Homo sapiens: one gene and its partners. The main gene of each other region encodes a partner of the protein of the gene in region 3 in a complex. Each region holds a gene or a part of one and is shown on either strand. Other genes may lie near its edges. The genes, in order: FGF23, KL and FGFR3.

Region 1 (3,745 bases), on a different chromosome or scaffold from region 3:
GACCGTCTTTATTTTCCCTTTTGCCTTACTAATACCTTTGAATGTTTGTGGTGATAGTCACATTCTTCCATGCCTTCTACTTTGTGATTTTTAAATCTATGCTGAGATGTCTTTCAAGGATCCAGCTTGCCATAGAGTCTGATTCTCCTCCTGGATGTCTGTGTAATTGTCTAATACATCAGTCAACACCCAGTATGTGTACAGAATGGTAGTAGAGTTGATCTCCCTCTTCCTTCTCTACTTATTGAAGTCACTCACTCTTCAAGACCAGGCTCAGGCGTCACCATCTCTATGAAGACTTTCCTCATCTTTCCATTCAAAATCAGTTGTTCTTCCTTCTCAGCTCCTCAGGACAATGCCTTCACCTCTATTACAGCATGTATTCCATTTAACTTGCTTTAGCTGAGTTTACCTATCCAGTGCGTTCCTTAGAGTGAGCTGCTTAGGAGCAGAGGGTATAACTGTTTATGTTGAATCAATATAAGTGACGGATGGAATTTTCTTCTTGGCTCTTCTTGGGTTGGTTCTTTGTCATTTTCTCACTTGGTGGTGACCTCTCCAGGTGCAGCCCCTCATGGACTTTCAGTGTCCCCTCTCAAAAACTAGTCTCCGACAAGGGCCTGAAACCCATTCACACGACCTACCTCTTAAGTAATTGATAATGGCTTTAAATTACTGTTTTGTGGCAAAGGCACAATTAGATCATATACTGGTGTAACATGCGTGATAATTCAGCGAGATTTCTTCCCCACATGTTATTTAATTACCTGACATTTTCTGTTAAAAATCATTACTTTAGGTCTTTGGGGCTACTTCCAGTTGCCTATCACAGAATTTCTAGGTGCATCTCATCTGACCTCATAGCCTCCAGGGAGGCAGCTAGAATCCCATGCAGGGATTCTAATTCCTCTTCTGCAACTGTAGCTTGGAGAGGTTGTAAATGCCCAATGTTTGTGCCTAGCAAGTGATGGAGCCTTGTGGGGGTGATTTAAAGGCCAAAGCTCTTCTCCTATCCCATGCAGGCTCAATACAAGGACCTTTGAGGAAAATAAGCAGCAATAATTAGGTACTAGCTGAGTAGAAATCATGATAGGGACTGAAATTGGACTGACGCGGAACAGAGGGAATGAGGGTGGAGACAAGCCCCAGAAAGGTGAGAAAGGAAGAGGGCCAAAGAGAGAAGTTAATTTGTTTCAAAGTTTGGCTGAGGGGAACCTTGAGGAAAGCTTCCCAGAAAGTGGACTGGGGTATGACAGGCGCAAAGGATGCTTAAATTCCTCCACAGTGGTGTCTGCCTATGTGTCTCAAATGTATGGCTAGTTTTGTGGTAAACCTTTGGAGAAATATAAGGAACGTGTAAGAAATGGTTTCGACTGGGTGCGGTGGCTCATGCCTGTAATCCCAGCACTCTGGGAGGCTGAGGCGGGTGGATCATGAGGTCAGGAGATCAAGACCATCCTGGCTAACACGGTGAAACCTCTTCTCTACTAAAATACAAAAAAAATTAGCCAGGTGTGTTGGTGGGCACCTGTAGTCCCAGCTACTCGGGAGGCTGAGGCAGGAGAATGGCATGAACCTGGGAGGCGGAGCTAGCAGTAAGCCGAGATTGCACCACTGCACTCCAGCCTGGGCGACAGAGCGAGACTCCGTCTCAAAAAAAAAAAAAAAGAAATGGTTTCTGTTCTGGTGACTTTTCAGTCTAATTGGGAAAAAATTACATTTAGTAATGGTCTTTGAGCGGTTGCACTCTAAGCACTTTACATATTTTAAATTCTCAAAACAAATTTTATATTGTTAGTACTGATTATTATTATTATTAGTAGTAGTAGTAGCAGCAATATCCTAATTTAAGTGATAAGGAAACTAAGACAGGATTGAAACTCAGGTCAGAGACATCTTCCCACCACCCGGTAACAAGCCTCCAGCAGAAATCACTAAGAGTCTGAGAAGACAATATCAAATGCTAAAATACATGCTGCAGGCAGTGAGGACAAGGAGTCACAGCAGCACTAAGGGCTCGGGGAAGGGGCACTGAGCCAGGTGCCAAGAACCAGGGGACTTGGATTTTGGTCCCAATTGTGCCACTTGCTGACCTTGCACTAGCCTCAGTTTCCTCAGCTGTGAAATAGAACAATGGCTGTCCTGCCTACTTCATAGGGTGATGATCGAAGGGGATAATGGTGGTAAAAGTGACTCGAAAGTGTCGAGCAAACAGAGGACATCACGTGGCGTGTTCTGACCTGCTGTTTATGCCGGGCCCATGCCTTGACAGGTGTGCTGGCTTGATGCTTGGGGTCAGTGTGGGCAGTGTGTATGGCACACACGCTCCTGGTTTCCAGAGCCAGTCCCCCTAGAAAACATCCGGCGGTGGTTGAGGAACTGTGAGAAGCTGCTACGGAGGGCACACAGACTCTTCCATCAAACAGTGTGAGCCAATGTGAAAGTTTAGAAAATGTGAGAGAGTCAGAGTTTCTTTCCTTTGTGCTTTCAAAAGGCATCTTTTCGCAGTCTGCACAGATTCAAGGGAGAATTTTGCAGAAGGAAGGAACAAACCATGGACTGCCGGAGCAACCAGCCCCGCCTGTTGGAGCTGAGCAGGCTTAATGGACTTTGCCTTCAATGACGGAGGTGTCTCCGTGCGTGTGACCTTGGAACAGCTTGGGATTTGGGGTCAAGGTGTCCTCTAGGTCTTTTACTACCTGTCTGACCTTCAGCCAGTTATTTAAGTTCTTTAACTCTTGTTTTTTCACATATAAAATGAGGACAGCAGAAACATTTACCTCATTTGGTCATCTTGAAGACATAATGAGATAATGTTTTTATCCTTTAGAAAGCACTTCCTAAGTGCTAGTAATTTTTACTATTACCACTTTGCTTCAACCTCTGCTTATAGAAGTAGAAAATTATCTACTCCATTCTACTCTTGTGGCCAGTAAGTGATAAATAAGATGATAGCAGTGAAGTGCTTTGAGCACCTCAAAAGAAAAACGTATGAAAAAGGCTGAAGGAGCTCAGCGGTAATTCAGCTTCAATAAAGATAGTTCCTATGGGGAAGATGGAGGAAGTGAAAATAGCAGGATCTAGGAAATGATATTACCAGGGACAATAAGCATCTCTCTCTTGCTGTTTCCATATAATAAGGATAAAGGGGAGTCAGAGGATGGCCTTGTTCATGGAACGGGTGATAAGGACACCAGAGGGGTACCTGGCAGCAGCGCTTGTGAGTCCTAAGGGAGCTTGAAGAATCTGGTAGGCAGGAGATAACTTCATTTTGTCAAGTCCAGTGACCCAAAGATGGGTTGTGCACTCAACTCTTAAGAATTTCTTACAGCAAAGTAATAAGATAAACCAGAATTCAATAGAAATGGATAATTAGGAGGGGAAAAAATACCCCTCACATTTTAGGTTTCCATCAGTGTAAAAACATTGCTTAACAGTCACTGATGAGGTCATTACAAATCCTTCACCAGACATTTAATTAGTTGTGCTTCTTATCTACATGCATTAATCTTTCCTCTTTCTTTTGGGTAACGTTTTTTTTTTGAGACGGAGTCTCACTCTGTCACCCAGGCTGGAGCACAGTGGTGCGATCTCAGCTCACTGCAAGCTCCACCTCTGGGGTACAAGCGATTCTTCTGCCTCAGCCTCCCAAGTAGCTGTGACTACAGGCAGGCACCACACCCCACTAATTTTTGTATTTTTAGTAGAGACAGGGTTTCCCCATGTTGGCCAGACTGGTCTCGAA
Region 2 (3,745 bases), on a different chromosome or scaffold from region 3:
CCAAAAGGAAGAATATTGCAGGTGGAGGAAACAACCCCTGCTAAGGAATTCAGCCCACAGTAGCGATGTGACATACTGATAAAACTTGGGGTTTGGAGTAGAAGAGACTTAGGTTTAGATTCCCTACTCCTCTAACTATGACCGGTGTGAGCCTCACTTACTGCTCTGTACAAGTGGGAATGACATCTATTGTCCCGTAGGGACACTGTGAGGATTAAATGACATAATGCAAGTGAGAGTGTCTTTTAAGTAGTTGATTATTTTACAGAGGAATACACTTGCAGCATTAGAAAGCATTTCAGATATCATTTGGATTAACTGCTCACCTCATGCCAAAACCCTGTTGAAACTTATTTGATTACTCTTTACAGCATCCTAACTTGGTGGTCATCCCAGGCATGGCACCGTCTCTAAGAAATCGCTGCAACCCCATGGACCCCCATACTGTGCTGCATGCCCCTCCTCTGGACACCAAGAGTCTCACACATACTTCTCTAATATCATTTACTGCAGATAATGAGGGGCATCCCTCCCCAGAATGAGCTCCCTGTGGAGTTCCCTCACTCCCTCCCTGGCACACGGAGGCCCTCATTGTCTGTTAAACTGAGTTGAACCAGCTTCACCACCTCTTCACGAGCCAGTTCACTCCCTTTGCGGATGGTACATTTGACAGATTAAATATTATGAGGCAGAGTGTGGGAAGGTCGCTATTTAGGATGTTGCAACAAATAAGGATGATTAACAGGGAGATGGTTACATATAGTCTTGCAATGCTTTCTAATTATTCCTGGTATGTTAATCTTATAGGCTTGTTGTCTTAAGATTGGGATTTAATAAAGTTATTGACAAGGACTCAGTGAAGTTATTAACTGTATGGCCAAGAACATTCATCTAAATACTATTTTTAATAGCCAAACATTGAAAACAATTGAAATGTCTAATATTCAAATATGTTTACCATGTATGAATGTTTTAATACATGATAGTATAACTAAAGAAATACCATTATTCAGGATAATGCAAAAGAATATCAATTAACATGTAAAAACGTTTCTAAAATACTCTGAACAGAAAAAGGTTATAAAATAGCAAGTAGAGTTTAGTAGCACTTTGATCTGGAGGGATTTATAACTTGTTAAAACCTGTTTTACAGCAGGATTGTGGGTGGTATAATTCACTTCATTTTACCCATCTATATATTTTTTTCATTTCCTACCATAAACATGTATTGCTCTAGAGATTAAAAAAATAAAATTCAAAAAGGGAAAATGGCTGATAGCAGTTGGATGGCAGGCCTGTTTGATGGTTATTAAAAGTCTCTGCTTCATCTCACCCTGCCCACCTGTTCTCCAACTTGCCCTATGGTCTCTGCCTGAAATCCAAGTCCCAGGCACATTGAACCCCACTTGAAGTTCTAAGATTATCTAGCCTTCCATGCTTTGGAGGTGCAGCTCTCTAAGGTATGTTTTGCCTATTCCCAGTTCCTTCACTCTTACACCCACTTTAAAACTCAGCTTAGATGTCGCCACCTCCAGGAAGCATTCCTTGACATCTTCCCTCTCCCTAGCATGGACTAAATGTCTGTTCTATGTGTTTCTATGATGGTCCTCTATCCAAGACCTTAACCATATATTATTGCATTTATTTAAGTGTCTGGATTGTAGGTGTTTTGAAGGCATTGAGTCTTTTATCTCTCAGATTCTAGCAAAGTCTCTGCAACAGAGCCAGTATTCAATAAACAGATCTAGAGGAATGAAGGCTGGCACTAAGAACCAGATCAAAGGGTCTAGGACAGAAGCAACATTTTTCTGGGCTGAAGCAGGAAAACTCTCTCATAAGCTACTCTGGTTCTTATTTTGCTTTCAAGATCATGAAAGACAGAAAACTTTCAGGCACATACCATTAAAAAATAAATTAGAAGGAATTTTATATGGCAGGCCTCTGAGAATAATACCATATTATCTCATAATGTGCTAATGATCCACTTTGGGGTATAAGTCTCTCTCGTATGTGATGCCCTCCTTGCTTCCTTCTTACCTTCCATCTAGATTTTGAAACATGGAGTCTGAAAAAAATCTAGAAGAAAAATGGATCTGGAATTCCTTCCTACCAACTAGCTAGTAGCCCCAAATTTTGGAAGTCGAGGAAAATAATTTTGGAAGTCGAGGAAAATACTCTGAATTCCACAGAACATATAGACATTTTCTCTTTGGCTAAATTATAAGCTCCCTGTCATTTGCCTATACGTATCCCCCACAGAACCCAACAAAAAGTTTCACACAAATAAGCTGCTTTTAAATGGTGGGTGGAAGGAAACAGGTGATGAGCCTCAGGTCCACTCCAGCTTTCTGCCTTGGGTTGTGTTCTAGGTATGGCTGAGGCAAATGAAGCCCACACAATACACAGCAGTATTGCTGAGCTGAAAAGGAAGAAAGCAATGATGAGGACTCTGAAGCAGGTCAACGTACTGGAGAGAAGAAATCTACACAAAGGAAGGACCTAGAAGTCTGCATGAGATTTCCCAAGGATCCTTGGCTGTCCATGCACAGGACAAGATTTTGTGAGGCTCAGCAAAGAGAAGCAGCCACAGGTCTGGGAGATGAATACCAAAGGTTGGGTAGGTCTGGAAAATATTGCATTTCAGAATAGCCAGAGTAGAAAAATGCAGCTGAGCACTTCAGGCATCCAGCTGAAACTCAGGAAGGTCATTACCTGAGAAGTAAGAACAAAGCAGGAATAGACCAGCTCTAACAAAGACTAAAGCCACATCAAGTAAATCTGGTAATTTAACTTCTTGGCAGAACTAAATACAACACCCTTTAAAAAGAGACAATATTGACCAGGCTTCCTATAATATCTCATTCATAGCACACAGAGCATAATAAAAATCTACTAGATATGTGAAAAAGCAGGAAAATGAAACCCTTAATTAAGGGGAAAAAAAGAAGTATTCAATATCAACAGAAGCCAAGATGTCCCAGACATTGGGATTAGCAGAGGACTTTAAAATAGCTATTATAAATATTTTTAAGGATTTCAAAGAAAAGATAGATATAATGAACAAATGGAGAATAACAACAGAGAAACAACAACTGAAGAAAACATGAAAATTCTAGAACTGAAAAGCGAAATAAACAAATTTTTGAATGGGATTAACAATATTAATTCTAAATGGAATAATAATAAGAATAAATAATGTAATCCCTAAAACTCACAAAGATATTAAAAGGTTTCTCTAAAAAGCCAATAAAATAAGAAAAATGAATTACCAAAAAATCTGATTTTTCCAAAAGATGCAGAAATAAAAAACAAAAAACACATGGAACAAAAAGAAAACAAATAGCAGGATTGTAAACATAAACCCAAACATATCAATAAATATTCAAATACACATGGACTAAATGTTCCAAGTACAAGACAGATGCTATGAAAGCAGATTTTAGGGGCTGGGTGCAGTGGCTCACGCCTGTAATCCCAGCACTTTGGGAGGCCAAGGCAGGTGGATCACGAGGTCAGGAGTTCAAGACCAGCCTGACCAACATGGTGAAACCCCGTCTCTACTAAAAATACAGGTGCCTGTAATCCCAGCTACTCGGGAGGCTGAGACAGGAGAATTGCTTGAACCCGGGAAGCAGAGATTGCAGTGAGCCAAGATTGTGCCACTGCACTCCAGCCTGGGCAACAGAGCAAGACTCCATCTCAAAAAAAAAAAAAAGAAAGTAGATTTTAGAAAAGTAAGTTTCAA
Region 3 (3,745 bases):
CAAGGAGAGGATCCTGGTGAGGAAGAAAGCAGAAAGCTATGTGTTCACAGATGCACGGATGCTCCCCTCCCAGAGACCCGTGGCCGTGGGTGCAGAGGGAGTCAGTCCTTCTTGGAGGTACTGGGAAAGGAGCCTACAGCTCCACTGAGCCCTTCTGCCTACAGGAGGGGCCCCACTCAGCAGCTGTTCCCTGAGGGAGACCTGTCCACGCGTGAGCTCCTTCCCACAGTCCCATCCAGTCCCCCAGGGGAAGGGGCAAGACGGTCAGGTCAGGACCCACACGCATGCTGGTGCTTTCAGAACCTGATGACTTAGTTGGTTAAGAGAGCTCACACCTGCAATCCCAGCACTTTGGGAGGCTGAGGCAGGTGGATCAGTTGAGGTCAGGAGTTCAAGACCAGCCTGGCCAACATGGTGAAGCCCCGTCTCTACTAACAATACAAAAATTAGCCGAGTGTGGTGGTGCACACCTGTAATCCTAGCTACTTGGGAGGCTGAGACAGGAGAATCACTTCAATCAGGGAGGCAGAGATTGCTTGAGCTGAGACTGTGCCACTGCACTCCAGCCTGGGTGACAGAGCGAGACTCCCTCTCAAAAAAAAAAAAAAAAAAAAAAAAGAGCAGGGCCAATGTGCTGCTGTGCCTTGGGGAACGGTGTCCTGGGAGCGGACCTGGCTGGCAGTGACCTGGGGCTGTGCACTGGAGGGGGCTGGACAGTGCACTTGGAGGTGGGTGAGCCTGGGCCCCAAGACGGTCTGGGGACATGGGCTTGGCCAGAGCAGGAAATGAGGGTGGCCAAGGACAGGTGCTGAGCCACCGAGTCGGCACAGAGGGGTGGGCATGAGGGCTTCCTGGGAGCAGGGCCCTTCCAAGTCCCTGAGGTCAGCCCAGGGACACCCTGGCCTCTGGGAGATTCATGGTGGGGCTGTGCATGGGCTGGGTGGGGTCAGCAGGCAGCCAGTCACTGAGGGGCTTTCAGCGCCCATTTTCCTGATGAGCACCTCCAGTCCTGGAAGCCACAAGCCAGGCACGCAGCCCACCCGGCCGGCCCTCCCGGCCAGCTCACTGGCTCCCATGGGCCCCGGACCTCCTTGGGCTTTGCCTGAAGGTGGGAGCAGATGGCCTTTTCCTTGTGAGGGTGGACACAGAAGCCAACAGTCATGTGGGGTGAGGGGACCCAGGCACCTCCAGCGTCCCCCGCAGGGCAGCACCTTCCCCTCCTGGGAACCCACCCCTCTTCAGCTGGACTCTGAGCCCACCCCGTGGAGCCCAGAACCTCGGGCCAGCTCAGGCTCTGCCACCAGCTCTCTGTCATCCTCCCTCAGAGCCGGGCTGTGCTCCCCAAGCCAGGGGTATCCAGCCCCCGCTCTTCATCCTAGGCCGGGCAGGCAGCCAGCCCCAGGCCTGTGTCCTCCTTGGGGGGCGGGGGGTAGGGACCCCTCGCGCGGGGCTCTCAGGCGGCTTAGCTGCGTGCGGCCCCAGGTCAGTCAACGCAGCCTCTGCACCTCGCCGGTCAGGTACGCAGGCCGCGCCGGGCTGCCCCAGACCTGCGGCGCACACGGGAGGCTCAGCCTGGAATGCCGTCCTGCCCTCCTCCACCTGAGGAATTGCCGCTCACACCACAGGGTTCAGCTCCGCGGCATCTCGGCGAAGCCTCCTGACATCCCGACCCCCGCCGAGACCTCCCCTCTGAGCTCCTGAGCACAGCCCCAGGGGACCCGAGCTGCGCGCTATGCAAACACAGGCCTGCCCTCGCCCTCGGTGCGCCCCGTGCCCGCCGCCCCCTGGGCCGCCCCGCGGTGCGACTAGGGGCCTAGCCCGCCTGCCCCGGCTCCCACGCCCTCGAGACCGCCGGGCGCCCCCGCCCGGCCACGCCCCCTCGGATGCCCCGCTCCGCCCCGAGGGGGCGTGCCCTGCGCCCCCGCGAGCCGGGCGGGGACCGGGCGGGAGCGGGGCGGGGCCGGGGCGGGGCGCGGACCGTCCCCCACTGGCTGCGGCGCGCGGGGCAGCCCAGGCTCAGTGCGCGGTGGCGGCGGCGTCGCGGGCAGCTGGCGCCGCGCGGTCCTGCTCTGCCGGTCGCACGGACGCACCGGCGGGCCGCCGGCCGGAGGGACGGGGCGGGAGCTGGGCCCGCGGACAGCGAGCCGGAGCGGGAGCCGCGCGTAGCGAGCCGGGCTCCGGCGCTCGCCAGGTCCGTGCTTGGGGCCGGGCAGGCTCGCGGAGGGGTCCAACGGTGCTCGCGGAGGGGTCGGGGCGCGGCTGTCGCGGAACCACAGAGGTCCCTGCAGCGGGCCGGGCCGGGGCGCGGGCTTCCCGCTCCGGAAAGTTTGCCGCCGCCGCCGCCCTGGGAGGGCTTTGCAGCAGCCAGGGAGGGAAGGGGGAGGAGGGAGGGACCGCGGCGGGGAGGAGGCGGCCGGCGCCAGGCGGCCCGGGAGCCCTGGGCGGCGGCGGCGGCGGGCGGGGCGGCTGGGGGTCGGAGGGGTCGGGACGCAGGAGCCGGCCACCGCCGCTTTCGTCCCTGTCCGCCCCTCTAACGAGCTGCCTTCCTCCTCCTGTAGTCTCCCGAGCGGCGCCCGCCTCCCGCCGGTGCCCGCGCCGGGCCGTGGGGGGCAGCATGCCCGCGCGCGCTGCCTGAGGACGCCGCGGCCCCCGCCCCCGCCATGGGCGCCCCTGCCTGCGCCCTCGCGCTCTGCGTGGCCGTGGCCATCGTGGCCGGCGCCTCCTCGGAGTCCTTGGGGACGGAGCAGCGCGTCGTGGGGCGAGCGGCAGGTAAGAAGGGACCCACTAGGCACGGGAGAGGCCGGCCCGTGCGGGCAGAGGCGTTGGGGACGGGAACCGGCCCCGGGTCGGAGGGGCCGCCGGGTGTGAGTGACGCCCCGGGGTTAGAGCCCGGATTCCGCTGCCTCCTTGCCGGAGAGCGCGGCCAGAGCTAGCGCGGCGACTTGTGGTGCGCCCGGAGCCGCAGCTACCCTCCAAGTGCGAGGCCACCACGGGGAGCCAGGCTGGGGGTTGGCGTCCGCAGCCCCGATCCCCTGCGACTCCCTAGCCCTGGCCTGTCGGGAGGGCGCGGGGGGCCCCATTTCCACGATTCCCGCTGTTGTTATTCGGGTTCTGCGCAGACGGAAAGTTCCCATTGTTGGCGTCCCCCTCCCCCGGGCCCCAGTTTGTGGCCAGCTTCGGCCAAGGCGAGAGACCGGACTTCTAAGGGTGGGTGTGCGCGTCAGCGAAGCCCGGCCCCTGCCCGCCCGAAGAGGCAGCAGCCTCCAGCGTCCCCGCTGCCGACCCTGCCCCTGCCTGGGGGCCGAGGGCGCTTCCCCGTGGGTGCGCGCCGAGCTCCAGGCAAGCGAGGGGCGCGTGTCCCAGCGTCGCGGGCCCTAGACTGGGCTGGCGGTCCAGGTCCCGCGGGACGTCGAGGGTCTGAAGGGAGGTCCCAAGGGGCGAGGGGAGGGGAAGGGGCGCCCGGCCGGACCTGCACACGCGCCGCGGTTCCTCGTGGGCCGGGCCGAGAGCTCCGGTGCCGCCGCCGCGTACACCCGCAGCCGGCTCCGGACGGGCGAGGGGGGCGCGCACAGCTCAGCCCGGCGGCCGCGCGGAGGGAGGCCTTGGCCCGGTGAGCTCGCGCCCCACCCGGGCCGAGGCCCGAACAGCCGCTTCTTTGTACCTCGACGCGGCCACAGACCGCGCATTGATGGCGGCTCGGCGGCTCGCGGGGAGGTGTGAGCGACCGCGGGCGCGGCGGGCCGGG

What was found.
Region 1: the proteins of FGFR3 (region 3) and FGF23 are in contact, whole or in part, in a cryo-EM structure (PDB 7YSU), measured with the Homo sapiens proteins. Residues at the interface, in NP_000133.1 of Homo sapiens: Glu157, Arg158, Asp160, Lys161, Leu163, Leu164, Ala165, Val166, Pro167, Arg223, Asp244, Leu246, Glu247, Arg248, Ser249, Pro250, Val277, Tyr278, Ser279, Asp280, Ala281, Gln282, Pro283, His284, Ala312, Gly313, Ala314, Thr316, Thr317, Asp318; in NP_065689.1 of Homo sapiens: Ser29, Leu32, Gly33, Ser34, Trp36, Tyr43, Ala45, Ala47, Arg48, Asn49, Ser50, His52, Ile75, Arg76, Ser77, Glu78, Asp79, Ala80, Gly81, Val83, Val84, His117, Gln118, Thr119, Asn122, Gly123, Tyr124, Asp125, Leu158, Ser159.
Region 2: the proteins of FGFR3 (region 3) and KL are in contact, whole or in part, in a cryo-EM structure (PDB 7YSU), measured with the Homo sapiens proteins. Residues at the interface, in NP_000133.1 of Homo sapiens: Gln286, Leu288, His290, Val291, Val293, Gly299, Thr303, Pro304, Tyr305, Val306, Thr307, Val308, Leu309, Lys310, Glu320, Leu324, Ser325, Leu326, His327, Asn328, Val329, Glu332, Asp333, Thr338, Leu340, Phe347, His349; in NP_004786.2 of Homo sapiens: Ser539, Gln540, Phe541, Thr542, Asp543, Asn545, Val546, Tyr547, Leu548, Trp549, Asp550, Val551, Ser554, Lys555, Arg556, Leu557, Val563, Lys566, Arg568, Tyr571, Val573, Ala576, Pro580.

The regions. Positions count from the first base shown.
Region 1 is NC_000012.12:4,372,997-4,376,741, forward strand, and holds part of FGF23 (fibroblast growth factor 23 precursor), read right to left. Parts: intron 1-3,745. UniProt on the Homo sapiens protein: Regulator of phosphate homeostasis. Inhibits renal tubular phosphate transport by reducing SLC34A1 levels. Up-regulates EGR1 expression in the presence of KL. Acts directly on the parathyroid to decrease PTH secretion. Regulator of vitamin-D metabolism.
Region 2 is NC_000013.11:33,047,327-33,051,071, reverse strand, and holds part of KL (klotho precursor), read right to left. Parts: intron 1-3,745. UniProt on the Homo sapiens protein: May have weak glycosidase activity towards glucuronylated steroids. However, it lacks essential active site Glu residues at positions 239 and 872, suggesting it may be inactive as a glycosidase in vivo.
Region 3 is NC_000004.12:1,791,275-1,795,019, forward strand, and holds the start of FGFR3 (fibroblast growth factor receptor 3 isoform 1 precursor), read left to right. Parts: upstream 1-2,018; 5' UTR 2,019-2,191; intron 2,192-2,508; exon of another isoform or gene 2,509-2,558; 5' UTR 2,559-2,660; coding exon 2,661-2,769; intron 2,770-3,745.